2 separate regions of the Homo sapiens genome follow, and region 1 is linked to region 2. Evidence: fine-mapped expression QTL. A gene starts in region 2. The other region holds a variant in brackets. All regions are shown on one strand. Distances are between the middles of the regions. Region 1 has its middle 48 kb from the start of ATF7IP2. Region 2 holds the start of TVP23A (trans-golgi network vesicle protein 23 homolog A).

Region 1 (16,193 bases), 480 kb after region 2:
ACAGCAGCCGGATTCTCACGCACTGCTGGTGGAAACATAAAATGGTGCAACCACTTTGGAAAACAGTTTGGCAGCTTTTCTGTTTTGTTTTTAAATAAAATTAAACATAAATTTACCATACCACTCAGCCATTTCTTTTTTTCTTTCTTTTTAAAATACTTTCAACTTTTGTTTTAGATTCAGGGGTACACGACCAAGTTTGTTACCTGGGCATATTGTGTGATGTTGAGATTTGGGGTCCAATTGATTCCATCACCCAGGTACTGAGCATAATACACAATAGAGAGTTTTTCAGCCCTTGCCTCCTCTCCTGCCTCCCCTTTCTAGGAGTCTCCAGTGTCTACTGTTGGCACCTTTATGTCCATGAGTAACCAGTGTTCAGCTCCCACTCAAAAGTCAGAACACGCGGTATTTGGTTTTCTGTTCCTGCATTAATTCCCTTGGGATAATTGCCTCCAACTGCATCCATGTTGCTGCAAAGAACATGATTTTGTTCTTCTTTATGGCTGCATACTCAGCATTTTCATATCTAGGTATCTATCCCAGAGAGCTACAGTCACAAAAAATGTTTGAGATGAATATCATTAGCAGATTTATTCTGGAAACAATTTTAATATCCACAACACAAAATTGGACAAATTTACGCACATTCTTGAATGGAATCCTACTGAGCAATGAAAAGGAGCAATACAAAAACACAGATGAATCTCAAAGACATTACATAGGCCAGGTGTGGTGGTTTGCACCTGTAACCCCAGCACTTTCGGAGGCTGAGGCCAGCAGATCACCAGGTCACGAGATTGAGACCATCCTGGCTAACATGATGAAACCCTGTCTCTACTAAAAATATAAAAAATTAGCCGGGTGTGGTGGCACATGCCTGTAGTCCCAGCTACACGAGAGGCTGAAGCAGTTGAATCCTTTGAACCTGGGAGGCGGAGGTTGCAGTAAGCCGAGATTGCGCCACTGCACTCCAGCCTGGGTGACAGAGCGAGACTCCATCTCAAAAAAAAAAAAAAAAAAAAAAGTTTACTAAACATATCCAGGACTTAACAAACCCAAGAAATGTCCCAATGCCCTGATATCTTAAAGACAAAAGCATTCTTTTCGAGAATAAGTTTCATTTTAAAGATAAGATTTCAGTCTGGGCACAGTGGCTCATGCCTGTTATCCCAGCACTTCGGGAAGCCACGGCAGGCAGATCACTTGAGCTCGGGAATTCGAGACCAGCCTGGCCAACACAGTGAAACCCTGACTCTACTAAAAACACAAAAATTAGCCAGGTGTGGTGGTGCTCGCCTGTAGTCCCAGCTACTGGGGAGGCTGAGACATGAGAATCACTTGAACTTGGGAGGTGAAAGTTGCAGTGAACTAAGATTGCACCACTGCACTCCAGCCTGGGTGACAAAGCAAGAATGTGTCTTAAATAAATAAATAAATAAATAAATAAATAAATAAATAAATAGATTATTGCAAAAGTCTGTAGTTACACAAAGGTTAACAATTCTTTGTCACAAGAGCTTGCATTAGAGAAAATCTCCCCCTTGATTTTTTGGCTTGTCTTATATATAAACAGGCATTGTACCTAAGGTGGGCACCTTCCTTCTCTTGCTTTTGGGAACACCCTGTTCTGTCTAGGCAGTAGTTATCCTTATATTCCTTTACTTTTTTTTTTTTTTTTTTTTTTTGAGACAAGGTCTCACTCGATCACCCACGCTGGAGTGCAGTGGCACAATTTTAGTTCACTGCGACCTCTGCCACCCGAGTTCAAGTGATTCTCCTGCCTCAGCCACCAGAGTGGCTGGGATTACAGGCTCCTGCTACCATGCCTGGCTAATTTTTGTGTTTTAGTAGAGATAGGGTTTCACCATGTTGGCCAGGCTGGTCTCAAACTCCTGAGCTCAAGCAATCCACCTGCCTCGGCCTCCCAAAATGCTGGGATTACAGCATGAACCACCGTGCTGGGCCTATTCCCTTACTTTCACTTTACTCTGTGGACTCACCCCAAATTCTTTCTTGCTTAAATTCCATGAAGCCTCTCTTGGGGTCTGGATTGGGACCTCTTTCTGGTAACATATTCATTTCCTAGGGCAACCATAACAAATTACTACAAATGGGGTGACCTGAAAAAACAAAAATGTATTCTCTTACAGTTTAGAAGGCTTGGAGTCTGCATTCAAGGTGTTGGTCGGGCCATGCTTGCTCTGAAGGCCTCAGGGGAGGATCCTTCCTCACCTCTTCTAGAAAGGTGGCTCCAGGTGTTCCTTGGCATTCCTTGATCTGCAGCTGTATCACTCCAAGGCCAAGGCACTTTGTCCCTTAAAGGCTTGCTGAAAAATCTCTGACATGAGGTAGTTTGAGAAGTGGGAGAAAAGGCATACACATTTATTTAACACATATACCAAGGAGCCTTCTTGTTTTTTTTTTATGAAGTTTCACTCTTGTTACTCAGGTTGGAGTGCAATGGTACAATCTCAGCACACTGCAACCTGCATCTCCTGGGTTCAAGTGATTGTCCTGCCTCAGCCTCCTGAGTAGTTGGAATTACAGGTGCGCACCACCATACTGGTCTAAGTTTTGTATTTTTAGTAGAGACAGGGTTTCACCATGTTGTCCAGGCTGGTCTCGAACTCCTGGCCTCAGCTGATCCACCTGCCTTGGCCTCCCAAAGTGCTGGGATTACAGGCAAGAGCCACCTTGCCTAGCCTTGTTGCAGGAATCAGGAGACCAGAGAGACCAATGGGTGGGACGGAAGGATTTTATTAAGGTGCGCACCAGCTCAGTGGATTTGCATCCAAAAGACTGAGCTGCGAACAAAGACGGCTTGACTTTTGTACATGCATCTGAAGGGTGGTTGGCTAGTTTGAAACAAGCTTACAGTGGCGCAAAATGCAGTGGTGTGAAAGCAAGTTTACAGAAACAGAACAGGGACCGTTTATCAACAGTAACAGGCTTGCAAGTCAGGCTCACTTAGGCATGTCATCTGACCCTTGCTGTATGGCCCATATGGCTGTAATTTAGGTTTGCTCAGGCTTATCTTGGGACCTTCACTGTGGTGCCCAGATGGCTGCAATCTAGGCTTGCTCAAGCTTATCTTGTGACCTTCGCTGTGCTGCCTTGATGGAGACCAGGTACTTACAGAAACCAGCTGCGGAACACAGGAATTTACAAGCCTACAGAACTTACAGAACAGGGTGCAATAGCAGGGAGTGGGTGGGGAGCTGCCTAAAGCAAAAATTCATGTTTTCTTTTTATATCTCCTGCTTCAGCCTTACATGAGAGCTTTCAAAATGAAGATCTGACATCCCAGTGAAGTAAAAAGGCTTCTATTTCATCTTGAGGTTACAGAGAGAATATGAGCTTGGATCCTGGTAAAACAGGTGATGGGAGGGAGGATAGGAGGAATTTGGTGGAGTGGTTACTAGGAAGAATGAGTGGAGCATAGATTAACTTCTAAACAATTCTCTTTATGATTTAAATGATCCTTGCAGACAGTCATTATACTGTTCAGGTGTGGTTAAATTATTAGCCTTAAAGGGAGAGAAAGAAAAACCAATTGTTCTCTGTGGGGGGTCTAGATCTTAGGCAGATGGAGGAACTTCAGTTTCTATGGAAGAGGCTGTGTGGCAGTGGGGCATTACAGCACAGGGGTCCCGATTCAGACCCCAAGAGAGGGTTCTTGGATCTCACGCAAGAAGGAATTCAGGGAGAGTCCGCACAGCAAAGTAAAAGCAAATTTATTAAGAAAGTAAAGGAATAAAAGAATGGCTACTCTGTAGACAGACCAGCTGTGAAAGCTGCTGGTTGTCCATTTTTATGGTTATTGCTTGATAATATGCTACACAAGGGGTGGATTATTCATGCCTCCCCTTTTTAGACCATATAGGGCAACTTCCTGACATTACCATGACATTTGTAAACTGTCATGGCGCTAGTGGGAGTGTAGCAGTGAGGATGACCAGAGGTCACTCTCATCACCATTTTGGTTTTGCTGGGTTTTGGCCAGCTCCTTTACTGCAAACTGTTTTATCAGCAAAGTTTTTATGACCTGTATTTTGTGTTGAGCTCCTGTCTCATCCTGTGACTTAGAATGCCTTAACCATCTGGGAATGCAGCCCAGAGATTATGAGTCAAATCAGCCTTCCTGAGAACTCAGAGGTTGTGTTTTAATGGATAATTTGGTGGGCAGCGGGGCTAGGGAATGGGTGTTGTTGATTGGTGGGCGATGAAATCATAGCGGTATGAAAAACGGTCCTCTTGCACTCAGTCTGCCTCTGGCTGAGGGCCACAGGACTGGTTGAGTCATGAGTCACAGGTCCAGGTAGGGTCAATTGATTGTCAGAATGCAAAAGTATGAAAAACATTTACAATCTTAGGCACTATAATAGTGATGTTATCTCTGGGTGTGGTGGCTCATGCCTATAATCCCAGCACTTTGGGAGGCCAAGTTAGGCGGATCACCTGAGGTCAGGAGTTTGAGACCAGCCTGGCCAACATGGAGAAACCCCATGGCTACTAAAAATACAAATATTAGCTGGGTGTGGTGGTGGGTGACTGGAATCCCAGCTACTCAGGAGGCTGAGACAGGAGAATCGCTTGAACCCAGGAGGCAGAGGTTGCAGTGAGCCGAGATTGCTTCACTGCACTCCAGCCTGGGCAACAGAGCTAAAAATAATTAGCTGGGTGTGGTGGAACATGTCTGTAATCCCAGCTACTTGGGAGGCTGAGGCAGGAGATCACTTGAACCCGGGAGGCGGAGGTTTCGGTGAGTCAACTTTGAGCCATTGTACTCCAGCCAGTGCAACAAGAGTGAAAAAAAGAATAGAAAAAAAAAGAATTTTTAAAAAAAGACATAAGACATTTCCTATAGGGCCTGAGATAACTTTCTGGGGTAATAGAAATAGTCTGTATCTTGATTGTGGTGGCTATTACACAGGTGTACACATTTGTCAAACCCACGAAATGGTACACTTTTGTTTTTTTTGAGACAGAGTGTCATTCTGTTGCTCAGGCTGGAGTGCAGTGGTGTGATCTCAGCTCACTGAAACCTCTACCTCCCAGGTTCAAGCAATTCTCCTGTCTCAGCCTCCCAAGTAGCTGGGACTACAAGCATGCACCACCATGCCTGGCTAATATTTTTTTGGTAATTTTTAGTAGAGATGGGGTTTTACCATGTGGGCCAGTCTGGTCTTGAACTCCTGACCTCAAGTGATCCACCTGCCTTGGCATCCCAAAGTGCTGGGATTCCAGGTGTAAGCCACCACACCTGACCTGTATACTTTTTAAAATAGGTTTTTTTTTTTTTTTTTTTTTTTTTTTGTGACAGAGTGTTGCTCGGTTGCCCAGTCTGGAGTGTAGTGGCATTATCTTGGCTCACTGTAACCTCCGCCTCCCAGGTTCAAACCATTCTTGTGCCTCAGCCTCCCAAGTAGCTGGGATTACAGGTGCCTGCCACCACACTTGGCTAATTTTTGTATGTTAGCAGAGATGGGGTTTCACCATGTTGGCCAGGCTGGTTTCAAACTCCTGACCCCAGGTGACCTACTCACCTCAGCCTCCCAAAGTGCTGGGATTACAGGCATGAGCCACTGTGCCCAGCCAAAATAGGGGAATTTTATTATAAGTTACACTGTTGCAGGAATCAAGGGACAGGAGAGACCAATGGGTGGGACATGAGGATTTTATTAGGTGAGCACCAGCCCAGTGGATTAACATCCAAAGGCTGAGCCCTGAGCAAAGACAGGGCTTGACTTTTATACATGCATCTGAAATGGGGTTGGCCGGTTTGATGGCGCGAAACCTGTAGAGCAGGCAAGCGAGCTTACAGAAGCAGAACAAAGGCAGTTTGTCAAACAGTGATAGGTTTTAGAACTCAAACTTATCTTGTGACCTTGCCGTGCTGCACAGAAGGGAAAAACAGGAACTTACAAAACTTGCAAAAATAATTATGAGAACAGAACAAGGAACAACGGTAAGGGGGAAGAATCTGAAGGGGGAAGCTGAAAGAAAAACTTGTTTTCTTCATCCCTGCTCTGGGATGGGAGGGAGAGGCTCTGGATCCCATCCCTTCTGGGCCCTGCCTCTGTAGATAGTGCTATCAAAGTCCCAACAGAGCCCTGCCCATTGCTGGGCCTTTGAGTGAGTCAGCCTAGTACAGGAAAACTTGTTTTTCTTTTTATGTCTTCTGCTTCAATACCACCTTAAAGTTAATTCTTAAAAAAGTAAGGTTCTCTACATGTAAGGTCCTCTGAATGGGCTACACCATGGTCAAGCCATTGTGACCCCTGTGACCCACACATACAGGCCTCCTGGAGTCACAAAGCCTGGAGCAACAAGAGAACCACTAAAGAAGAAGAAACAGCTAGTTCCTGCCTTAACTGATTAACCAAATTTGCAACATTCCACCATTGTCATATGTTCCTGCCCTACCCTAACTAATCAATCGACCTTGTGATACGGTGCCTTGTGACCTCCCCCTACCTCATGACTATGCATCTTATGACATTCTTCCCCTGCCCAAAAAAACTGCCCCTAAATGTAACTTTCCTCTTCCTACCCCAAACCTATAAAACCAGTTCCACTCCCACCACCCTTCATTGACTCCTTTCTCAGACTCAGCCGACTTGCACCCAAGTAAACAGCCTTGTTGCTCACACTAATCCTACTCAGGTGTTCCCTTATAAAGATGTGTGTAACACTATGCACTGCAGGTAAACACAAAGGAGGAGCACTTTGCACTTTTTTAGAAGATTTTTTTTTTTTTAAGAGACAAGGTCTCACTCTACCACCCAGGCTGGAGTATGATCATACCACACTGCAGCCTCAAACTCCTGGGCTCAAGCAATCCTCTCACTTCAGCCTCCTGAGTAGCTAGGACTACAGGTGTACAAAATTAGCCTAATTTTCACTTTTCATTTTTTGTAGAGACAGGCTCTCGCCATGTTCCCTAGGCTGGTGTCAAACTGCCAGCCTCAAGCAATCCTCCTACCTCAGCCTCCCTAAGTGCTGCAATTACAGTTATGAGCCACTGTGCCCAGTCCCATGCACTCTTTCAAGAGTGTAGGAAACTTCTTGGAAGGGATGGTATTGGAACTTCTACTTGAAGAATGAATAGGGCCGTATGGCAA[T/C]TTAAAACCAGATCCTGAAATTCCATGGCCCTGCCCCCATCAAGATCTGTGACTGGTGATCTTTTTTTTTTTTTTTTTTTTTTTTGAGACGGACTCTCGGTCTGTCACCCAGGCTGGAGTACAGTGGTACAATCTCAGCTCATCGCAACCTCCGCCTCCCAGGTTCAAGCAATTCTCCTGCCTCAGCCTCCCGAGTATCTGGGACTACAGGTGCATGCCACCATGCCCAGCTAATTTTTGTATTTTTGGTAGAGATGGGGTTTCACCATGTTGGCCAGATGGTCTCGATTTCTTGACCTCGTGATCTGCCCACCTCGGCCTCCCAAAGTGTTGGGATTATAGGCGTGAGCCACCCCGCCAGGCCTGTGGATACTCATATTTAATGACTCAACCACTAGAATGAAGTAGAATTGATGCTGTGCTAGCTTCTGGGCCCACCTTTAGACAGGGGCAGCTTTTGCTTCTTGTCCCTTGGTCTAGGAACCCAGCCACCATGCTGTGAGGAAGCCCGTATAGCCTGCAGAGAGCTGGTGTGGAAAGGAACTGAACCCCTCCCTCCCAGACCTGGCTGGGTTCCCAGCTGACAGCCAGCCCTAGCTTGCTTATTATTTTAAGCTGAAGACATTTGAGATTCAACAGATGTGGAAAGAAGCCTTCTGGGAGCTGCCTTCATTTGACTAAAAGCAGCATCTTCTGGGAAATAAGGCTACCATAAACCCTCTCTCTTTGAGAGCATCATAGCCAAGAACAAGAAAGACACTTGCACCTGCATAAACAAACATTACCGCAGACTTTACTTCTCATTTTTTCTCCTAAAATCCTATTTATCTTTCCTAAAGAAACCTATTTGTTCTTCTCATAAGAGCCTTTTCTCTCCCCTCCCTTTTCCCTTAGGTGTATAAGCCTTTAACTCTAATCATTTAATGTACAAGCCACTTTTTTTTTTTTGAGACATTCTCACTCTGTCATCCAGACTGGAGTGCAGTGGCATGATCATGGCTCACTGCAGCCTCGACCTCCCAGGCTCAAGCAATCCTTTCACCCCTCAGCCTCCCCAGTAGTTGATGCAGGTGTATGCCACCACAGCCAGCTAATTTTTTTTTTTTTTGTAAAGATGGGGTCTCACCATATTGCCTGGGCTGGTCTCAAACTTCTGAGCTCAAGCAATTCCCCGCTTCAGCCTCCCAAATTTCTAGATTGTAGGCTTGAGCCACTGCACCTGGTCAGCAAGCTACTTCTTTTTTTTTTTTTTTTGACGGAATCTCACTCTGTTGCCTAGGCTGGAGTGCAGTGGCGTGATCCTGGCTCACTGCAACCTCTGCCTCCTGGGTTGCAGCAGTCTTCCTGCCACGGCCTCCCAAGTAGCTGGGATTACAGGTGTGTGCCACTACACCCAGCTAATTTTTGTATTTTTAGTGGAGATGGGGTTTCGCCATGTTGGCCAGGCTGGCCTTGAACTCCTGACCTCAGGTGATTCACCCACCTCAGCCTCCCAAATTGCTGGGATTACAGGCGTGAGCCACCGCGCCCGGCCTGCAAGCTACTTCTTTTGTTGGCTCCTGTATTGCATACATATAAGCCGTTTTTCTCGTGTTAATCTAGCTTTCTTCACCTTAATTCGCAGTCCGCCACACCCCCCACCACCCAAAAGAACCTAAAAGGGTAGAGGAAAAGTTTTTCCTCCTCCACACCATAAATAGTCACAAGTCAGGCTTTGCTACCAAATGAGTTCACTGGGGAAAAAAATCAATTTAGTTTTAAAACTATTTTGGATGTGAATTTTGGAAGTGCACTTAAGAGGAAGTGCACTTAAAGAACTTGGGTCAGGTGCAGTGGCTCACACCTGTAATCCCAGCCCTTTGGGAGGCTGAGGTGGGCGGATCACTTGAGGTCAGGAGTTTGAGACCAGCGTGGCCAATGCGGTGAAACCCCATCTCTACCAAAAATATAAAAAGTTAGCTGGGTGTGGTGGTGCATGCCTGTAATCCCAGCTACTGGGGAGGCCGAGGCAGGAGAATCACTGGGACCCAGGAGGCAGAGGTTGCAGTGAGCCTAGATCATGCCACTGCACTCTGGCCCAGATGACAGAACAAGACTCTGCCTCAAAAAAAAAAAAAAAAAGTGCTGGGCGCAGTGGCTCATGCTTGTAATCCCAGCACTTTGTGAGGCTGAGGCGGGCGGATCACGAGGTCAGGAGATCGAGACCACGGTGAAACCCTGTCTCTACTAAAAATACACACAAAAAAATAAGATTAGCCAGGCGTGGTGGAGGGCGCCTGTAGTCCCAGCTACTTGGAGAGGCTGAGGCAGGAGGATGGCGTGAACCCAGGAGGCGGAGGTTGCAGCGAGCCAAGATCGCGCCACTGCACTCCACCCTGGGTGACAGAGAGAGATGCCATCTCAAAAAAAAAAAAAAAAAAAAAAAAAGAATAGCAAGGGTGGAGGGTTGGCTGTGGGTGGGGAAGTTTTGAAAAATGTTACCGGAATATACTTACCCATTGCTACTGTGAATATATAAAGACGTATGGCATATAAGATCTTCTGGTGCCAGGCATGGTGGCTCACACTTCTAATCTCAGCACTTTGTGAGGTTAGCTTGAGCCCAGGAGTTTGAGACCAGCCTGAACAACATGGCAAAATCTTGTGTCTATGAAAACTACAAAAATTCGCAGGACCTGGTGGCGCTCACCTGTAGTCCCGGCTACTCAGGAGGCTAAGGTGGAAGAATCACTTGAGCCTGGGAGGTCAAGGCTGCAGGGAACCCTGATCATGCCACTGCACTGCAGCCTGGGAGACAAAGTGAGACCCTGTCTCAAAAAAAAAAAAAAAAAAAAAAAGATGTTCTTGCAGTTTTCTTATGATTTGCTCTACGGTGTGATTAATAACAGTTGCTGTTGCAATAATTCCTGCTATATTTTGACACAGTGCTGTGAAAAGAAATCCAACATGGAGGCCAGGCGTGGTGGCTCACGCCTGCAATCCCAGCACTTTGGGAGGCCGAGGTGGGCGGATCACCTGAGGTCGGGAGCTCGAGACCAGCCTGGCCAACATGGAGAAACCCTGTCTCTATTAAAAATACAAAATTAGCTGGGCATTGTGGCACATGCCTGTAATCCCAGCTACTAAGGAGGCTGAGGCAGGAGAATCGCTTGAACCTAGGAGGCGGAGGTTGCGGTGAGCCGAGATTGCGCCATTGCACTCCAGTCTGGGAAACGAGCAAAACTCCGTCTCAAAAAAAAAAAAAAAGAAAGAAAGCCAACGTGGAGATGATTTGTCGGAGGTCTCTGTCAAGGAGCCAGGAGGGCAAAAGTTGGCCCTCAGTCATATATGGATCCAGAGGGATCTGACCTGTTTGAACTGGGCCAGATCGCAAACGTTCTGGAGAAGCAGCTTCATTGGGTTTGAACTGCTCACACTGGGGCAGATCACGAACCTCCTGAAGACACAGCTGTGCTGAATTTTAAGCTGATCATGGCCTAGAGTCTTTCTAAGCTGTCAGCTGGCCTATAGGGGGAGGAAAAAACAAACAAATGAAAAAAACAAGAAGAAATGTTTTATTCAAGGAATACAGGCCCCTTTAAGCCATCAGGCCAAAGAGGCATTGAAATGAAACAGCAGTTAGGTTACTTCCCTTTGAATTAATAATCACCTTATTTTTTATTTTTTTTTTTCAGAGACAGGGTCCGCCTCTGTGGCCCAGGCTGGACTGCAGTGGCACCGTCACAGCTCACTGCAGCCTCCCCCTCCTGGGCTCAAGTGATCCTCCCATCTCAGCCTCCTGAGTAGCTGGGACTGCAAGCACACACCAGCATGCATGGCTAATTTTTAAATTTTTTGTAGAGACAGGGTCTCACTGTGTTGTCTAGGCTGGTCTCAAACTCTTAGGCCCAAGCAATCCTCTGGCTTTCACCCCTGAGTAGCTGGGGCTACAGGTGTGCACCACCATGTCCGGCTAAATTTTTAAAAAGTTTTCAGCAGAGATATAGTCGCCCTATGTTGCCCAGGCTGGTCTCACACTCCTGGGCTCAAGTCATCCTCCCACTTCAACCTCCCAAAGTGCTGGGATTACAGGCTTGAGTCACTGCACCCAGCCAAATAATAATCACCTCTTGAAGCCACTTGCTGTGTGGCTTCTACACTTAACTAAGGCCACGTACCCCTAAAATACCAAATGCCCTACAGTTCACCAATATATAGCCAATCACTAGCCAATGTTATTTCTGTAAACCCATGAGAATTCCTAACAATGTTTGTAATCACCCTCTCTCCTCATTGGTTATTTTTTCTTTAAAAACTTCAGCCTCTCTAATGTCCTCTGGAGCACGCCCCACAGCAAGTTGGAAGTGTGTCCTGGACTGCTGCCCTCAACCTTGACCCAAATAAACTTTATATTAATATTGTCTCAGCTTCTCCCTTTGAGGTTGACAGGTCATGTGTCAATCACAGACTGTGCTACTGTCTTCCGCTTAGGTAAACTTGCAGTAAACCTTTAGAAACCCCTGCCTAGAGTCTTGCCTGGCTGAAACACGTTTTAGCTACTTGCTAGATTTGTTTCTCCCAAATTGCAATGCATAAAAACCCTGATTAAAATGCCTTCCTGGGCCAGGTGCAGTGACTCACGCCTGTAATTCCAGCACTTTGGGAGGCCAAGGATGGTGGATCACCTGAGGTCAGGAATGCCAGACCAGCCTGGCCAACATGGGGAAACCCCATCTCTACAAAAATACAAAAATTAGCCGGGCATGATGGCGGATGCCTGTAGTCCCAGCTACTCAGGAGGCTGAGGTGGGAGAATCATTTGAATCTGGGAGGTGGAGATTGCATGGAGCTGAGATCACTCCACTGCACTCCAGCCTGGGTGACAGATCGAGACTCTGTCTCAAAAATAAAATGGGCGGGGCACGGTGGCTCACGCTTGTCATCCCAGCACTTTGGGAAGCCGACATGGGCAGATCACAGGGTCAGGAGTTCGAGACCAGCCTGGCCAACATGGTGAAGCCCCGTCTCCACTAAAAATACAAAATGAGCCGGGTGTGGTGGCGCATGTCTGTAATCCAAGCTACTCGGGAGGCTGAGGCAGGAGAATCACTTGAACCCCTGGAGGCAGAGCTTTCAGTAAGCTGAGATCGTGCCACTGGACTCTACCCTGGATGACAAAGCGAGACTCTGTGTCAAAAAAATAAAAATAAAATAAAATAAAAGTCCCTCCCTTTGTTTGTGGCTCCCCAGTGTTGGTTGATAGTGCATGGATGAAATGTATAATGCCTCCTGAGTTCTCCTGCCCTTCAGGAAGGTTTTTTACACATATAGTGGCCTCAGATGCATTTCTTGATTTGGAGTTGAGGGTGGAATCTTGGCAGAATTGACAGAAGAGGCACCAGTGGGACAGAGGAGGGACAAGGGGAGCAACCTTTTTTTTGTTTAATAATGAGGGGGGAGGCGATGGCCTTCTCCTCCTTCCTCCCAGGGTGTCTCCTTAAAAACATAACAGGCCCCACAAAAAGTTGAAGGAGTGAAGAACGTGCCAACCCAAAATATGCTAGATTGGCATATTGATTATTTCGAGTTGAAAACATTGATGAAATTGTGGTTGGTATGTTTGCTTGTTTTATTTATTTTGAGATAGAGTCTCATTTTGTTGCCCAGGCTGGAGTGCAATGGCGCAATCACAGCTCACTGCAGCCTTCACCTCCTGGGCCCAAGCATTTGTCCTACTTCAGCTTCCTGAGTAGCTGGGTCTGTAGGTGTGCATCACCACACCCACTCAAGAGGAAATATACACTTTTTTTTTTTTTTGAGACGGAGTCTCTCTCTGTGTCACCCAGGCTGGAGGGCAGTGGTGCGATCTCGGCTCACTGCAACCTCCGCCTCCCGGGTTCAAGCGATTCTCCTACCTTAGCCTCCCAAGCAGCTGGGACTACAGGTATGCGCCATCACGCCCAGCTAATTTTTGTATTTTTAGTAGAGACGGGGTTTCACCATGTTGGCCAGGATGATCTCGATCTCTTGACCTTGTGATCTGCCCACCTCAGCCTCCCAAAGTGCTGGAATTACAGGCATGAGCCACCCCATCCGGCCCACATTTTATTAGTTTTACATGTACATGGGGATCTTCACAAGAAACAAAAAAATGATTCTTTTTTTTAGATGGAATCTTGCTCTATTGCCCAGGCTGGAGCGTAGTGGCGTGATCTCAGCTCACTGCAACTTCCGCCTCCTAGATTCAAGCAGTTCTCCTGTCTGAGCCTCCTGAGTAGCTGGGATTACAGGCACACACCACTACGTCCAGCTAATTTTTGTGTTTTTAGTACAGAAGGGGTTTCATCATGTTGGCCAGGCTGGTCTTGAAGTCCTGAGCCCAAGTGATGTGCCTGCCTTGGCCTCCCATAGTGCTGGGATTACAGGTGTCAGTCACCGTGCTCGGGCCCAAGAATGTGATTCTTCACGAGCAGGAAGATTGGTTGGGCCCAAGAGTTTGAGACCAGCTAGGCAACATAGCAAGACCCTATCTCTATAAAAAGAAAAGTGAAATAATTATCTGGGCTTGGTGGAGCATGCCTGTAATCACAGCTACTTGAGTGGCTGAGGCAAGAGGATGGTTTGAGCCCAGGAGTTTGAGGCTGTAGTGAGCTATGATCATGCCACTGCACTCCAGCCTGGTGACAGAGCAAGAGCAAGACCTTGCTCTAAAAAAAAAAATTAAAAAGGGCTAACTGACCTCTCTCTTTGTGCATGCAGCAGGCCATAAAAATTCCTCTGGGAGGAGGGCTGTCACATACCAGGGTGAGAAAATAGCCCTTATCACCAGAGACTGGGAATTGGGGACTGTGATGGACCTGAATAAACATACTTAATGAAACAATCTTTATCTTCCACTGTTTGACACCCCCATATATCTCCTAGCAACTCCCCTAGAAAATTTATTGCCCTAGCCAGGTTTTCCTGTCATTTCTTCTCAAATGTAATCTAAATAGTGTACAAATAGTATACAAGCATCTATCTTTAGCCACTTGTTTGAACTTCACGCTATTATGAAGACCCCCATGTACAGGTAAAACTAATAAAATGTATATACTTTTGTTAATCTGCATGGTGTCAATTTGGTGTCTAGATCCAGCCAAAGAGCCCACATAGGAGCTAAAGGGGAGCTGGAGGTGACCACTGGCTCCTTTACAAGGTCCAGCCTTTTGATTTCATAGCACAAAATCATGGGCTTTCTGAGGCCAGGCACAGTGGCTCATGCCTGTAATCCCAGCACTTTGGGAGGCTGAGGAGACCGGTGATCATAAGGTCAGGAGTTTGAGACCAGCCTGACCAACATGGTGAAACCCTGTCTCTATTAAAAATACAAAAATTAGCTGGGCATGGTGGCACGCACCTGTAATCTCAGCTACTCAGGAGGCTGAGGCAGGAGAATCGCTTGAACCCGGGAGGTGGAGGTTGCAGTGAGCCGAGATCACACCACTGCCCTCCAGCCTGGGCGACACAGAGCGAGACTCCGTCTCAAAAAAAAAAAAAAAAATTATGGGCTTTCTGATCCTTGGAACTGTAAACACGCACCTCCAAGGCTGACATAGAAGGAGGAGTACAGGAGGCAATCCAGAGATAAGATTTTCTTTTAAATTTTTATTTTTTTGGAGACAAGTCTCACTCTGTTGCCCAGGCTGTAGTGCAGTCATTCCATCATAGCTTACTGCAGCCTCAGGCTCCTGGGCTCAAGTGCTCCTTCTGCCTCAGCTTCCTGAGTAGCTGGGTTATAGACGCGCACAACAAGCCTAGCTAATTTATTGTTTACTTTTTGTAGAGACGGGGTGTTGCTCTGTTGTCCAGGCTGGTCTTGAACTCCTGGGTTCAAGTGATACTCTCGCCTCAGTCTCCTAAAGTTCTGGGAGTACAGGAGTGAGCCACTGCACCTGACCCAATAAGAGATGCTTCAATTATTCTCTCTTCTACTTTTCTGTAAATTCTGTTCAGATTTTGTCCAGACTATCAGAAAAAAAAGAAAGAAAGAAAGAAAAGAAAGAAAGAAAAAAAAAGGAATCAACAGGTCAGAGGCAAATAAGCATTTATTCAGGAATGGGGGTTGCAACCAGGCCCCAGAGACCACCACCCAAGAGGGACAAGAAAGGCTTATAGGAAATTTTTCAGATGACATAAATTACCAGATTATTTTATTGATGGATTAAGCAAAGAAGTTGTTAGTCATTAGTGGAAGGGTACATTTGGGTCAGTTAGGAAAAAACTACACAGACTGTCCCTAAAGATTAGGACCAGATTCCTTGTATTGTATATTGTCGAGAGCATGGTTGTTTGTGAGAGAACTGTTTTTCACAGTTCTTTGTGGGTCTCAAAGTCCACCACCCAATCTAGGCACAGTGGCTCACACCTAAAATCCTAGTACTTTGGGAGGCTGAGGCAGGCAGATTAGCCCAGGAGTTCAAGACCAGCCTGGGCAACATGGTGAAACTCTGTCTCTACAAAAAATACAAAAATATTAGCTGGGTGTGGTGGTGCACACCTGTCGTTCCAGCTACTCAGGAGTTTGAGACAGGAGGATTGCATAAGCCTGGGAGGTTGAGGCTGCAGTGAGCCACTGAGCCATAGTCGTGCCACTGCACTCCAGCGTGGGAGACAGAGACTCTGTCTCAAAAAAAAAAAAAAAAAAAAAGTTCATCATTAGTTCAGTCTGGGGTCAGTAGCCCAAGATAGAGTCCCCGATGTCAAGCGTAGAACAATGCTCTATTCAAACACTCAAATGACCTGTGACAGAGATTCTCTTCTTCACCAAACTCTACTCAGGTTCTCCTAAACTCTTTGTCCAGTAGGTTTCAACTTTTGGAGTTCCGTGTTGATAAAAAAAAAAAATTTCAGGCCGGGCGTGGTGGCTCACACCTGTAATCCCAGTACTTTGGGAAGTTGAGGCAGGTGGATCACCTGAAGTCAGGAGTTCGAGACCAGCCTGGCCAACATGGTGAAATCCCATCTGTACAGAAAATAAAAAAAATTAGCTGGGCATGGTGGTGGGTGCCTGTAATCCCAGCTACTTGGGAGGCTGAGGCAGGAGAA
Region 2 (16,193 bases):
GCTATGTTGTCCAGGCTTGTCTCTAACTCCCCAGCTCAAGTGATCCTCCCACCTCAGCCTCGTGAATAGCTGGGACTACAGGCATGCACCACCACGCCAGGCTAATTTTTTTTTTTAATTATTATTTTTGTGTAGAGACAGAGTCTCATTATGTTGCCCAGGCTGTTAATTATAATAATACATTCTCTTTAATCCACTATGTCTAAAAGATTATCATTACAGCATGTAAACAATTAAAACATGATTTCAATATTATTATTTTACATTCTTTTATTCCTACCAAGTCTTTTTTCTTTTCTTTTTTTTTTTTTTGAGACAGAGTCTCACTCTGTTGCCCATGCTGGAGTACAATGGCACGATCTCGGCTCACTGGAACCTCTGCCTCCTGGGTTCAAGCAATTCTCCTGTCTCAGCTTCCCAAGTAGGTGGAACTACACGTGCCCGCCACCACACCTGGCTAATTTTTGTATTTTTAGTAGAGATGGGGTTTCATCATATTGGTCAGGCTGGTATCGAACTCCTGACCTCAGGTGATCCACCTGCCTCGGCCTCCTAAAGTGCTGGGATTACAGGCGTGAGCCACCACGCCCGGCCTTTTATTCCTAACAAGTCTTCAATCTCTGCTGTGTACTTTGCCCTGATAGCCCATCTCCATCCAGCCTTACCCCATTTCAAGGGCTCAGTAATGACTTGTGGTTCCTGGATTAGACAGCACAGCTTTGCATGGGGGCATTTAGTGCACTTTTGACAAGCTCTAGTTTGTTGTTTTTTCACTTGGCTGTATTTATTTGTCTGTAACTAGAAAGTTGGCCTAAAGAGGGTCAGCAATCAGCAGCTTATATCTCTTGCTAAGAGCTGCGTCCATGTCCACACCAGCGTGCTGGGCACAGCTGGTGTCAGGATTTGCACCCAGGTCTGTCTGGGTAGAAATCCAGGGCTATTTCCATGTACCACTCCCTGCGCCTGACAAGGTGGATGGGGCCCTGAAGGCAGCCCACGGGAGGGGACCCTCCTTCTTCCCTTGGCCCTCTGCTCCGCCCTCCTGGGTAACCTGCACTGGCTGCCAGCCTGAAGAAGGACTGGACTAGGTCACCTGAAAGGAGCCTCTGTGAAACAGGCAGCAGTGTGACAGTCACAGGGGCAGCCATACAAACAGGAGGGTGGGAGCCCCCCAACCTCGTGGGCCTGGATGTCCCCTGGCCTGGAGTCATACCGTAACTGAGTAGCTTGGCTTCAAAATGCTTTTTTTTTTTGCTCTGTTCCCCAGGCTGGAGTGCAGTGGCACAATCTCGGCTCACTGCAACCTCCGCCTCCCGGGTTCAAGTGATTCTCCTACCTCAGCCTCCCAAGTAACCGGAATTACAGGCACCCACCACCACGCCCAGCTAATTTTTGTATTTTTAGCAGAGATGGGGTTTCATCATGTTGGCCATGCTGGTCTCAAACTCCTGACCTCAAGTAATCCACCTGGCCTGGGCCTCCCAAAGTGCTGGGATTACAGGCATGAGCCACTGTGCCAGGCCTCAAAACGCATTTTATACTTTTTTCCCTTTTTCTCTTTTCTCCTTAGTCTCAAGATGTAACGTCAAAACAAACTGCAGAAACCTTTTTTTCCCTCCTTAGTCTTTTTTTTTTTGAGACAGAGTCTCGCTCTATTGCCCAGCCTGGAGTGCAGTGGCATGATCTCGGCTCACTGCAACCTCCACCTCCTGGGTTCAAGTGATTCTCCTGACTCAGCCTCCCAAATAGCTGGGATTACAGGTGTGCACCACCATGCCCAGCTAATTTTTTGTATTTTTAGTAGAGACGGGGTTTCATCATACTGGCCAGGCTGGTCTCGAACTCCTGACCTTGTGATCCTCCCCTTCGGCCTCCCTCCTTAGTCTTAAAATATAGCCTTGAACTGTATTTTCAAACTCTGTCTCTCTCCCTTATCCCATGCACATTTATCTGGCTGTATGCTTGTATTAATTATGTGTTCACTTAGAAGTTCCAGGAGCTAACCTTGAAACATATCAGTCTTGGAGACCCAGCTGCAAAATTCCAGAGATTATCTCTAGGTGGTTTGTCAACAACCCGGCCATGGTTGGGATGATGCCAGGCTATGCTTCAGGTGGAGCAAGGCTCGAGATAGCCGCTGGAACAAGACAAACTGGCTTTGTACCCGGCACCACTCCCGTTCTAGGTTCCCTTTTTAAAATATTTTATTTTTTGAGACAGGGTCTAGCTCTGTCGCCCAGGCTGGAGTGTAGTAGCACAAATACACCTTACTGCAGCCTTAACCTCCTGGGCTCAAGTGATCCTCCTGCCTCAGCCTCCAGAGTAGTTGGGAGTACAGGTGTGTGCCACTGTGGCTGGCTAATTTTTTTATTTTTGTAGAGACAGGACCTCGCCATGTTGCCTAGGCTAGACTCGAAGTCCTGGGCTCAAATGATCCTCCCGCCTTGGCCGCCCAAAGTGCTGGAATGACATGTGTGAGCCACCGCTATGCCCAACCTTCCAAGTGCCCTTTTTTTAAGTCCCTCTCCCCAGGCTAAAGTTAGAAATGGTTCCTGTAAACACAAGCCTGGGCCATTTCCCCACCACTAGCCCTGGAATAAAGTCACTTTCCTTTCACTGCATCTCGTCCTTGTTATTGGCTTTGTAAGTGATCAGCAGCCGAGCCTGTGTATGGTTACAATAGGACTGCCAGAAAATAGGGGCCACCCAGATACATTTGAACTGGAAATAACACAAGTGATCTTTTTTTTTTTTTTTTTTTTTGAGACGGAGTCTTGCTCTGTCACCCAGGCTGGAGTGCAGTGGCACAATCTTGGCTTACTGCAACCCCCGCCTCCCTGGTTCAAGTGATTCTCCTGCCTCAGCATCCTGAATAGCTAGGACTACAGGCGCGTGCCACCAAGCTTGGCTAATTTTTTGTATTTTTAGTAGAGATGGGGTTTCACCTTGTTAGCCAGGATAGTCTCAATCTCCTGACCTCGTGATTTGCCCGCCTCAGCCTCCCAAAGTACTGGGATTACAGGCATGAGCCACCATGCCCGGCCACAAGTGATCATTTTTAAGTATAATTATGTCCCAAATATTGCATGGAACATACTTGCACTAAAAAAATTGTCATTTATTTCAAATTCTAATTTAGCTCAGTTTCTGTATTTTTTTCTTTTTTTTTTTTTTTTGAGACAGGGTCTCACTCTGTCGCTCAGGCTGGAGTGCAGTGGGGCAATCTTGGCTCACTGCAACCTCTGTCCCCCAGGTTCAAGCAATTCTCCTGCCTAAGCCTTCCTTGTAGCTGGGATTACAGGTGCACACCACCACGTACAGCTAATTTTTGTATTTTTAATCAGGATGGGGTTTCACCATGTTGGCCAGGCTGGTCTTAAACTCCTGACCTCAAATGAACAGCCTGCCTTGGCCTCCCCCAAAGTGTTGGAATTACAGGCGTGAGCCACCATGCCCTGCCTGAGTTCCCTTATTTTTATTTGCTAGATCTGGCAACCCTACCTGGGGAGAAATGACAGGATCGTCGTCAGATGCCAGGGAGTGGGGTGCAGATCTTAGGGGCCAGTGGGATCGTAGGGAGTGCCACTCATAGGAATGCTGGGCTGAGGGTGATGAGCAGCTGCTGGCTTTGGTGTGACAGGTTTGGGGGCTGCCACTTCCATCCTGCCTGGTGGGGACACGGAGTGCATCTTGGGCCTTTTCAGGCCCCAGATGTAGTCAAACTCTTTCCACTCCCCACTGACCCTCTATGCCAACTGCCCTTTGCTCGCAGCTAAAGAGTCAAACACTCTGCGTGTCTTACAGCCTGCCATGGTCCTGCCAGACTGACGTCTCCTTCCTCCCCTGGCCGAATGTTCTCCTCCAGCCTCTGGGTTCCAGCACCCTGACCTGTGTTTGCCAGAATTCACACCCAAGCCTCTGCCTCCTGGTCCAGGACTCCTGGGGTCACTGGAGAGAAAGACTGTGTGTGTACCTCTGTCCAGGTGCCCTATGTCCCGGGGGCACGCAGTGTGAGGCCAACAGGAGCCACTCAGGAAAGGCCAGCCCTGTTCTGCTGGGAAGACAGATATCCCCAGCAGAGGCCCCTGACACGAGGCTCCTGTCCTGTGTGCTGCTGGCCCATGGGGGCTCCTGACCCGAGACCCCTCTGCTGATGACCTTAAGTCACTGTCAACAAGGCCGCTGTTTCCTGAGCCCCTATTCAGAGAAAGGAATCTGACATGTTTTCTCTGGTCCTTCATCATCCTTGCCAGGTAGGGGGAAAGTATGGCGCCACTTTACAGATGTGGAGACTGAGGCCAGAGAGGTGAAGTCCCCTGCCTAAGGTGACCTGTCCCCTCCCCAACAAAGCCTGCAGACTCCAGATGTTGACCTCCAAGGTCAGCCAGAGGCCAGTGGCTACCTGAGCCTGGACCTCCTTCCCTGGGGTTGTTCTGGCTTCAAGGTCCCAAGCCCAGCTGCAGGGATCGGAGATGGGGTTGCTTCTCACAGGTCTACTCCCCAAATCCTTCAGGGGCCAAGACCAGTGTGGGTAGGGGGAGGGGAGAGGGCCAGTGTTTCCCAAAGGTCGGGCTTCCAAGCCCTCTCTGCGGCTCTTATTAAGGCAGATCTCCAAGCCGCAACCCTGGAGGTTCAGAAAACCTAGAGTGAGATCCTAAAATCTACCCTTTTGTTTGTTTGTTTGTTGTTTTTTTTCCGAGACTGAATCTCACTGTGTGGCCCAGGCTGGAGTGCAGTGGCGCAATCACAGCTCACCACAACCTCCACTTCCCGGGTTCAAGCGATTCTCCTGCCTCAGCCTCCTGAGTAGCTGAGATTACAGGCTTGCGCCACCATGCCCGGCTCATTTTTTGTATTTTTAGTAGAGATGGGGTTTCGCCATATTGGCCAGGCTGATCTCAAACTCCTGACTTCAAGTGATCTACCCACCTCGGCCTCCCAAAGTGCTGGGATTACAGGTGTGAGCCACTGTGCCCGGCCTAAAATCTACCTTTCAACCAGGTGTCTCTGCCGCAGCCAGTTTTAAAACCAAGATGAGTTCTCTGTGCAACCCTCAGGCCCTCTGCCCACCCCTCAGATTCAGGAAGCTGACCCCACAGAGGGCCGTCTGGGCCACGTGTAGAGGGAGGGTGCTTTCTTCCAAGGAGGGAATAATAGGGCTTCATATGTGGCCCCAGCATCTGTATCCTCAGCCCTCTGCCCCATGTGGACAGGTCAGGAGGGATGGAAGTGACCCTGTATTTATAGAGCCACCTCCAGATGGCAGGAGCTGAGGATATTTCTGGAGGAACCTCCAACCCAGTGGCTGAGAATGACAGTTGGTCCTGACTGGGGATTCCACGGGGGTTTTCCCATGACTCCAGGAACCCCAACTCAACAGACACCAACAGCTGGTGATTCTTAGGGTCAGAGAAAAAGCCCCTAAATGTTCTGCAACGGCTTCTTCCCTCCAGCTGCCCTCCTGCCTCCTTCCTCCCAATATCCCCTTCCCAGGCTGCTGGGGCCCCGCTGGGAGTGGGCCTCTCCGTTCACCCTTCTGGGCAGGAAGAGCTCACAGGCCTTTCTAGAAAACCAGGCCTTGGTGGTTTAGATCTTTACAATTCAAAGGGTGGTCCAGGGAGCAGCAGCATCAGCTTCTCCCACGGGCTCTCAGAAATGCAGGATCTCAGCCGGATGTGGTGGCTCACGGCTGTAATTCCAGCCTTTTGGGAGGCTGAAGCAGGCAGATCACTTGAGGTCAGGAGTTCGAGACCAGCCTGGCCAACATGGTGAAACCCTGTCTCTACTAAAAACACAAAAATTAGCCAGGCGTGGTGGTATGTTCCTGTAGTCCCAGCTACTTAAGGGGCTGAGGCACAAGAATCACTTGAACCCAGGAGGTGGAGGTTGCAGTGAGCTGAGATCTAGCCACTGACTCCATCTCAAGAAAGAAAGAAAGGAAGGAAGGAAGGAGAAAAGAAAAGAAAGGAAGGAAAGAAAGGAAGAAAGAATCTCAGCCCCTGCCCAGACCCCCAGACCCCCAGAACGCTGAGTCAGCATCCAGCTTCTAAGCCAACCCCAGGAGATTCATTTGCAGATTGAGGGGTCAGAAGCACTCATTTAAATCACTGGTTCTTTACCTTGCAGCCCAACACCTGGGAGCTTTAAAAGCACTGGTATAGGGTCCCATCCCCAGAGAGCCTGATTTAATTGGTCCATAACACAATCTGGGCAGTGTGTCTTTTAGAAGCTATCCAAATCGCAGCAGAGTTTGGCAAATATATATACATATACATATATATATATATATATATATATATATATATATATATATATATATACATACACACACACATATATACACATTGTATATATATAAATCTTGGTTCCTGAAGATCGCATAGTAGAGGCTGGGTGCAGTGGTTCATGCCTGTAATCCCAGCTCTTTGGGAGGCCAAGGTGGGTGGATCACCTGCGGTCAGGAGTTGGAGACCAGCCTGGCCAACATGGTGAAACCCCCTCTCTACTAAAAATACAAAATACAAAAATTACCCGGGTTGATGTCAGGCGCCTGTAATACCAGCTACCTGGGAGGCTGAGGCAGGAGAATTGCAGGAACCCGGGAGGCAGGGGTTGCAGTGAGCCGAGATCGCACCATTGCACTCCAGCCTGGGTGACAAGAGGGAAACTCCATCTCAAAAAAAAAAAAAAAGAGAAATGGCATAGGAGAAAGCACTTTCCCTCCACACACACCTGGCAGGCCCTTGTGGGGTCAGCTTAGGGAATTGGGGTGGGGGCGGAGGACAGAAAGCCTGGAACCCAGGCCCAGGATCAGAGATGAGACAGCTCCTGCCTCCACCTCCGCCCATGGAGACCAGCAGTGGGGAAAATGTGTCAGGGGCTTGTGGCCCAGGAGCCCTCTTTGGGGTCACCAGGGGCAGGGGACACGTACCTATTGTCCATGGTGGGAGGGCAAAGGGCAGGGTCACTGGCTTTGGCATCTCGATGCTCAGCCCTCTGTCCGTGGGTGGGGGATCAGGACAGGGAGAGGGCACGCAGGAGAGGAGAGTCACTGTGTCCTGGGCCAGGAAAGACCCTCAGGTGACAAGTTTTCTTTCCTGGGAGGTACCCAGGAAGACTTTCACTTCAAGAAACACTACTATTACTGTCAATAATAGTATTAATACTACTAATAACTTTGCGCTTAATAAGTGCCTGGCACGGCGATGCACGCAGATCTCACTGTGGTTCTGAAGCTGTGGCTATAGCAGCGCCACCCCTTAAAAGGCAGGTGAGGCCGGGTGTGGTGGCTCACTCCTGTAATCCCAACACTTTGGGAGGCTGAGGCAGGAGGATGGCTTGAACCTCGGTGTTCAAGACTAGCCGGGGCGACATAGTGAGACCCTCCTCTCTACAAAAATAAAAATTTAGCTAGGTGTGGTGGTGCAGCCTGTGGTCCCAGCTTTTCGGGAGGCTGAGGCGGGAGGACTGCTTGAGCCCTGGAGTTTGAGGCCACAGTGAGCTACGATGGCACCAGTGCTCTCCAGCCTAGGTGCAGAGAATGTTCCCAACAATCTCTGCACGCAAGAAATTCCCAGGAACCTTGTGAAAAGCAGATTCTCAGGCCCGGCCCGGGGGATGTGGAAGGCCTGGAGTGGGGCCCTAGAATCTGCCTTCCCCACCCCACCCCCCAAAAAAGAACACAGCAGGGCCCATCCTAACTGCATTTTGTCGTGGGGGGTGGGGGCGCGGGGAAGGCAGATTCTAGGGCCCCACTCCAGGCCTTCCACATCCCCCGGGCCGGGCCTGAGAATCTGCTTTTCACAAGGTTCCTGGGAATTTCTTGCGCGCAGAGACTGTTGGGAAACACTGACCTTCTCCCAACCCTGAATGCGGCTGCCCACCACTGACATTCATTCACTGCCTTATCATTCGCTACATCCACGTTTATGCGCCGTCCACACCATTCGCTGACGCAGCCGCCCCCCGCCCCCGACTCCCATTCCTCCCACTATCTCTGTCCGCAGTTCCCCAGGCCGTTGCCTCCCTGCCGCCGCTTTCTCTCCTGGGCGCGTCCCCGGCGAGCCGAGCCCCCTCCCCAGCCTGCGACTGCGCCTTAGGCCCCGAGCGCCCCGCCCCACCCGAGAAGCTGCGCTGAGGCTGCCCCACAGGGCGCAGGCCCCGACCCTCAGCGTCCACCGTCTGCTGCCTACATCCGCCCGCCCGGCGTCCGACCCCTTCAGCGGCGACGGGCGGAGCTGGAGCCCCGGGCCTGGGCGCCAGGTGGGCTCCTGGGAGGGTGATGAAGCAGGTAGGGCCTCGGGGATGCTGGGGCTGGAGGCGGGGCGGGACGAGGGGAGCCTGCGGGAGCGCTGGAGAAGCCGGGAGGAGGAGGAGGGATGCGCCGGGGCCTGGGGCTGGGCTGCACCCGGTGGTCGGGAGGGTGGAGAGGGCTTTGCACTGCAGCCGCAGCGGAGGGGCCCCGCCAGCTCGGAGGGTCCACTTGGGAACCCGGTGGGGTGCAAGTGGAGTCCAAGCCCAGGAGGACAGGGCGGGTGGGGTTGGGGTGTGCGCCGTGCTTGGGCCTGCCACCTGCCCTTGCTCTCCTCCCAGGCCCTGGTGGACGATACCGAGGATGTGTCCCTGGACTTTGGAAACGAGGAGGAGCTGGCCTTTAGGAAAGCCAAGATCAGGTGTGTTGGGATGGAGCTTGGGTCAGGCGTTCCCCAAAGCTGCAAATTCATTCATTTACTCACTCATTCATTCAAAATATATTGAGCACCTACTGTGTGCCAGGTCTGGGGCTGGGGACATATCTGTGGACACATCAGACAAAGTCCCTGCCCTCCTGGAGCCTGCATTGGGAGAGGGAGGAAGAAGGGGTGGAGTTGATGTTGAACAGGCAAGGAGATTAATGAGATAATTGAATGTGAGAAGAAAATCAGCCCTGTGATGAAAGAGAAGGTAACTAGAGAAGGCCACTTGCCTTAGTGCAGCCATGGAGGGCCTCTCTGAGGAGGTGGCATTTGAGCTGAGACCAGAATGATGAGAAGCAGCCAGCCATGGGAGACTCCAGAGGGAGAGTGTTCCAAGCTGAAGGAACAGCAAGCGCAAAGGCCCTGGGGCTATGTTGTAAGATCAGAGAAAGCCACTGAGGCCAGAGGGGAGCAAGCTTGGCAGTGGGCTGGACAAGTGGAAGAGAGCTTGGAGTTTTATTCTAATCCCTGCTGAGTCTAGCTAGACAGACTTGTCCTGGGTCAAGTCACTTAACTGCCTGAGACCTCTAGCATCCCAGAAGGTGGCATGACCAAGGCATGAGGGATGACCTGTGAACGTGGTTGCCGATGGCCCAGGCGGCAGCCACTTCTAGAAACACCCACAGCTCAGCCTCACTCACCCACCCAGTTCTGCTTCCAGCTATCAGAGCCAGTAGGCATGGGACGAGCCCTGGCACCCAAATGCCATTCCTTGTAAAGTCTCTGTTTTTAAAATCAAACTCTCTGATTCAAACCTAATAAACCCCAGAAAGTAATAGACTGTATTAGTTTCCTATGGCCGCTAGAACAAATTACCATTATCATCTTGGCTTAAGACAAAAGAAGTTTATTCTCCTGCAGTTCTGGAGGCCAGAAGTCCACAGTCAGTGTTCCTGGGCTGAAACCAAGGTGGCAGCAGTGCCACACTCCCTTCGGAAGAATTAGGGGAAAATCCATTCTTTGCCTTTTCCAGCTTTTGGTGACTGCTGGCATTCTGTGGCTTGTGGCCTGTTCCTCCGTCTTCAAGGCCAGTGTTATAGCATGTTCACATCTCTCTCTGTTCCATGGTCAGGTGACGTGTGTGTGTGTGTGTGTGTGTGTGTGTGTGTGTGTGAAGTTTCCCTGTGCCTCTTTCTTTTTTTTTATTTTATTTATTTTTTATTATTATTGTACTTTAAGTTTTAGGGTACATGTGCACAACGTGAAGGTTCGTTACATATGTATACATGTGCCATGTTGGTGTGCTGCACCCATTAACTCGTCATTTAGCATTAGGTATATCACCTAATGCTATCCCTCCCCACTTCCCCCGTGCCTCTTTCTTATAAGGACTATTGTGTTGGCATTTAGCGTCCACCCAGATAATCTAGGATAACCTTTGCATCTCAAGATCCTTAATTATAGGCTGAGTGCATGGCTCACACCTGTAAGTAATCTCAGCACTTTGGGAGGCCAAGGCGGGCAGATCACTTGAGGTCAGAAGTTTGTGACCAGCCTGGCCAACATGGTGAAACCCTGTTTCTACAAAAAATACAAAAATTAGCTGGGTGTAGTGGCATGCACCTGTAATCTCAGCCACTCAGGAGGCTGGGGAAGGAGAATCACTTGAACCCGGGAGGTAGAGGCTGCAGTGGGCTGAGATCACACCACTACACTCCAGTCTGGGCGACAGAGTGAGACCCTGTCTCAAAAAAAAAAAATTCTTAATTAAATAATTAAATTACATCTGCAAAGTCCCTTTCATCATATATGGTGGCTGTCACAATTTCTGGGGATTAGAACCTGGATTTCTTTTTTTTTTTTTTTTTTTTGAGATAGGGTTTTGCTCTGTTGCCAAGGCTATATAGTGCAGTAGTACAATTATGGCTCACTGGAACCTCAAACTTTTGGGTTCAAGAGTTCCTCCTGCCTCAGCCTCCCTAGTAGCTAGGACTATAGGTGTTGCCACCATGCCAGGCTAATTTTTTAAAAATTTAATTTTGTAGAGATGGGGTCTTGGTATGTTGTCCAGGCTGATCTGGAACTTCCGGCCTCAAGTACTCTTCCCGTGTCAGCCTCTTAAAGCCTTGGGATTACAGGCATGAGCCACTGCACCCATCCAGGACCTGGATATTTTCGGAGGCTATTATTCATCCCACCATAATGGCCAATGATTATCTTTAAGGGAAGACACTGCAAATGAAGATTCCAAAAGAACTGGAATCCTGGGTAAAGAATCTTCTAGAACATCTGAACTCATATGTGTTCAATTTCTATTGAGTATCTACTGTATGCTCAACTCTGGGCTAGTGGCTGGGGAAATGCAGTGTTCAGGACCCCACTCCTGCCTTTACAGATTGCCCAATCTAGGGCAGGTTTGCTTAATGTTAGCACTCCAGACATTTTAGGCCAGATACTTCTTTGCTGTAAGGAGTGTCCTGTGCACCGTGGGATGTTTAGCAGCATTCCTGGCCTCTATTCACCAGATGCCAGTAGCAGCCCATCCATAAAGTCTCAGGCATTGCCAAATATCCTCTGTGGGGCAAACTTGCCCCCGGTTGAAAACCACTGGTTTGCAGGGTGGGAGTAGGCATACCAGTGGCTATTACAACTCAGTATTTTTGTTTTGTTTTGTTTTTGTTTTTGTTTTTGAGATGGAGTCTCACTGTCACCCACGCTGGAGCACAGTGGTGCAATCTCGGCTCACTACAACCTCTGCCTCTTGGGTTCAAGCAGTTCTCCCGCCTCAGTCTCCCAAGTAGCTGGGACTGCAGGTGCACGCCACCACGCTTGGCTGATTTTTATGTTTTTTGTTTTGTTTTGTTTTAGTAGAGATGGAGTTTCGCCATGTTGGCCAGGCTGGTCTCAAACTCCTGATCTCAGCCTCCCTACCTACCTACTTCAGCCTCCCACAGTGCTGAGATTATAGGTGTGAGCCACTGTGCCTGGCCAGAACTCAGTATTTTAAACGCTGGGATAGGCAGAAGCTGGGGCTCCTATCCTGGCCAGAGAAGGAGGTACCAGCTAAGCTGGGACCCACAGGTAGGGTAGGAGTTGGTTAGGCTGGGAAGGGTAGATATACCATGGGGAGGCTTGGAGGTAAGGTCATGAATTTAGGGTGGTTCCATGTGGCTCAAGACCCAGGTGCTGGGAAGTGGCCTGCGTGGAGATCGGGGCCAGACCCTGCAGCACTTAGCAACCAAGCTCCAAGCTCTGGAGGTGCATTGTCCACTGAACCTTCTATGAGGATGGGGCTGTGCCTTTATCTGTGCTGTGCAGCACGGTGGCCTCAGCCACCTGTGGTGATTAAATGTCTGAAATGTGGCCAGGGCGCCTGAGGGACAAATGTTTTGATATTATTTAATTAATTTGAATGTAAATAGCCACATGTGGCTGTGGCATTGGGCAGGGCAGTTCCAGAGTTCGGTCACCATGGAAGGATTTTGCTCAGGGCAGTGATGGAGGCTGGGTTGTTGGGGTGGAAGTAGGATAGGAGATCAGACCAAGGCACTGGCAGGGATGACAGAGGAAAGGGGCCCAGAGGCACAGGGGAGGTAGAATCGGCCCGCCTTGCTGGTGGTCAAGATGTGGGGTAGGGACAGGGATCATCAGGGTGACACTCAGGCTGGTGGTCTGGTGAGTCAGGTGAAGAAGCACTTCTGGGGGAAAGATGTTGAACTCAGAGTGGTCCTTGTTAGTCTGTGTTGGAACATTCTAGTAGCCAGTGGACAGCTGGGAGGAGAGGCCAGGAGCTCGAGAAGTCACCAGGGCTGCAATCAGAGATCTGGGAGGCAGCAGTTCATGTATCCAGGTGGGTATGTTTGAGAGCCACCCATCCCAGAATCCTCGGTGTGCCTAATGCAGATTCCTGGGTCTGGCCCTGGACTTATTTAACCAGATTCACAGGGGATGGGCCTAGGAACATGAATTTAAAATAGCACCCCATTGATTCTGATGTGTAGGAATGTAGAGATGGCTCTAAAATCCTGAGAACAAATGAATTTACCCAGATTGCAGTGTAGAAAGGGAATTTTTTTTTTTTTTTTTTTTTTTTTTTTTTTGAGATGGAGTTTCACTCTTTTTGCCCAGGCTGGAGTGCAGTGGTGCGATCTCGGCTCACTGCAACCTCTGCCTCCCGGGTTCAAGTGATTCTCCTGCCTCAGCCTCCTGAGTAGCTGGGATTACAGGTGCGTGCCACCACGCTGGCTAATTTTGTATTTTTAGTAGAGACAGGGTTTCATCATGTTGGCCAGGCTTGAACTCCTGATCTTGAGTGATCCTAGTGCCTTGGCCTCCCAAAGTGCTGGGATTACAGGCGTGAGCCACCATGCCCGGCCTAGAAAGGGAATTCTTAACTGAGGTCTACAGATGGGCTTCAGGGGTTCAGGAAACCTCTGAAAACTATTATCTAAGTTTCATATGTGTGTTGTTTTAGAAAAAGGATCCAAACTTTATTTATTTATTTGTTTATTTGTTTGTTTATGAGACGGAGTCTTGCTATGTTGTCCATGCTGATCTCAAACTCCTGGACTCAAGCGATCTCTCTGCCTCATCTTCCCAAAGTGCTCCCAAAGGATCCAAACATTAATTGGATTATCAAATGGGCCCATGATCCAAAAAAGTTAAGAATCGCTAGTATAGAGTGAAAACAGTTATTTGTAAATCCCTTGTTGAAATGGATTCCAGGCTGACATCGAAAGGAGGTGATGCTGTGGAAGGGGGCCTGTCACAGGAGTCTGGGACATTGGGTTCATCTCTTCCTTTATCACTTTCTGGCTTTGTGATTTTTGGACAGGTCACCTTACTTTGCTGGGCCTCCATTGGCCAGTCGGTAAAATGGGGATAATTGTATCAGCCTGACTTCACCACGTGGTTATTATACAGTTTATTTACTAAATATTTATTCAACATCTGCCAGGGGCAGGTGCTGGGCTAAGCCCTGGGGATGGAGCTCTGGTCTCTGCTCTTTCTGTCCCTGGTTCCAGGTCAGTGAGGTGCAGTGTTGCGGTGGGGGGCCTGGGAAGTACATCACATCTTGCAGGATCAGTGGAGGGTGTGATTCCACAGCAGAGCTGGGCACACAGAGGAAATGTTAGCCATGCTGTATGTGTTTTTCCCCGGTGGGCAAACTTTTTATTTCTTTTTACTTTTTTTTTCAACTTTAAAAAACTGTGATTAAAAAAAACCCACAGCGTAAAATTCCATCTTAGTCATTTTAAATTATACAGTTTAGTAGTTCAAGTATAGTCACGTTGTGAAACAGAGTGTTTTCATCTTGCAAAACTGAAACTCTGTGCCGTTTAACAACTCTCCTTCCCCCAGCCCCTGGTAAATACCATTCTCCTTTCTGTCTGTATGCATTTGACTACTCTAGGGACCCCATAAAAGGGTCATACAGTATTTGTCCTTTTTTTATTGGCTTACTTCACTTAGCATAACGTCCTCAAGTTTCATCCATGTTACAAAATGTGCCAGAATTTCCTTCCTTTTTAAGGCTGGATAATAGTTCCATGATATGAATAAACTATGTTTTGTTGACCCATTCATCCACTTGGGTACACTTGTACCTCTTGCTGTTGAGAACAGTACTGCAATGAATGTGGGTATGCAAATCTCTTTTTGAGATTCTGCTTTCAATTCTTTTGGCCATATACCCACAAGTGGGATTGCTGGATCCTATGGTAGTTCTATTTTTAATTTTTTGAGGAACTACCATACTGTTTTCCACATCAGTTACACCATTTTACAATCCCATCAACACTGTACAAGGGTCCCAGTTTCTCCGCATCCTTGCCAACATTGTTATTGACTGTGTTTTTGATAGTAACCACCTCATGGGTGTGATAACCATGGTATTTCGTTGTGGTGTAGATTGGCATATCCCTAATGGTTAATGATGCTGCTGAGCATTTTTTCATGTGCTATGTGTCCACTTGTATATCACCTTTGGAGAAATGTCTATTCAAGTCTCTTGCCCGTTTTTTTTAATCAGTTATCGGATTTTTGTTGTTGAGGTCTTTATTCTGTATATTAATATTTTCTCTTATTCTATAGGCTGCCTTTTCATTCTGTTGGTTGTGTCTTCTGATGCACAAAAGTTTTTAGGTTTAATGTAATTCCGTTTGCCTTTTTGTACTTTTTTTTTTTTTTTTTTTTTGAGACGGAGTCTTGCTCTGTCCCCCAGGCTGGAGTGCAGTGGCGTGATCTTGGCTCACTGCAAGCTCCACTTCCCGGGTTCACGCCATTCTCCTGCCTCAGCCTGCCGAGTAGATGGGACTACAGGTGCCAGCCACCATGCCCGGCTAACTTTTTGTATTTTTAGTAGAGACGGGGTTTCACCATGTTAGCCAGGATGGTCTCGATCTCCTGACCTCGTGATCCGCCCGCCTCGGCCTCCTAAAGTGGCCGATTTGTACCTTTTGTTTCCTTTGCTTTTAGTGTCAGTGTATGTGTGTGTGTGTGTGTGTTTAATTTAATATAATATAATTCATGGCCAGGCACTGTGGCTCATGCCTGTAGTTCCAGCACTTTGGGAGGCTGAGTCAGGTGGATTGCTTGAGGCCAGGAGTTTGAGACCAGCCTGAGCAACATGGCAAAACCCCGTTATCTACAGAAAATACAAAAAGTAGCCAGACGTGGTGGCACACACCTGTAGTCCCAGGTACTTGGGAGGCTGAGGTAGGAAGATTGCTTGAGCCTGGGAGGTCAAGGCTGCAGTAAGCCATTATCACACCACTGCACTCTAGCCTGGGTGACAGAGCAAGATCCTGTCTCAAAAAACAAAATAAATAAAAAGAAATATAATTCACATTCCACCAATTTCTTCTTTAAAAGTGTATGATTCAGTTTTGATTTTGATACATTCACAAGGTTGTACATCCATTACTACTATGTAGTTCCAGAAGTTTTTCACTGCGCCAAATGGGAGCCCTGTACCCATCAGACAGTCCCTACCCATCTTCCCTTTCCCCAAGCCCCTGGGAACCACTAGTCTACTTTCTGTTCCTATGAATTTGCCTGTTCCGGACATTTCATGTAAATGAAATCTGGGTTAGTCATGGATCTCCAAAGAAACAAAACCAATAGGATATCTGTAAGTATGGAGAAAGAGATTTATTATGAGGAATTCATTCATGCAATTTTGGAGACTGAGAAGTCCCACGATCTGCCATCCACAAGCAGCAGGCCCAGGAACGCCGGTGGCATAAAACCCATCCTAGCCCGAAGGCCTGGGAACCAGGGGAGCCTACAGTGTCTCATTCTGAATCTGAAAGCCCCAGAACAGAGGGGCCGACGTGTAAGGCCTAGTCTGACTCCAAAGGCCCCAAAACCAGGAGGTATGATGTCTGAGAGGAGATGAGGACGGCTATCCTAGCTCAAGCAGGGAGAGGAAATTCCCTCTTCCTTTCTTTGTTGTCGTATTCAGGCCCTCAAAGGTTTGGATAATGCCCATCCAGATTGGGAAGGGAGGGCCTTCTT

Evidence for each region. PIP is the estimated chance that this variant, and not a neighbour inherited with it, causes the effect.
Region 1: its variant is fine-mapped to the expression of TVP23A in ovary (GTEx, PIP above 0.99).

Annotation. Positions count from the first base shown.
Region 1 is chr16:10,330,149-10,346,341 of GRCh38, reverse strand. No RefSeq gene overlaps it. Among named protein-coding and RNA genes, the nearest start is that of ATF7IP2, 48 kb to the left of the region's middle. RefSeq lists a silencer at 14,583-14,783. The variant T/C (reference allele first, on the strand shown) is at 7,128.
Region 2 is chr16:10,810,582-10,826,774 of GRCh38, reverse strand. TVP23A (trans-golgi network vesicle protein 23 homolog A) reads left to right here and starts at 7,981. Exons shown (of 8, transcript NM_001079512.4): 1 at 7,981-8,290; 2 at 8,593-8,672. The coding sequence starts at 8,282. RefSeq lists enhancers at 5,234-5,443, 13,564-13,613.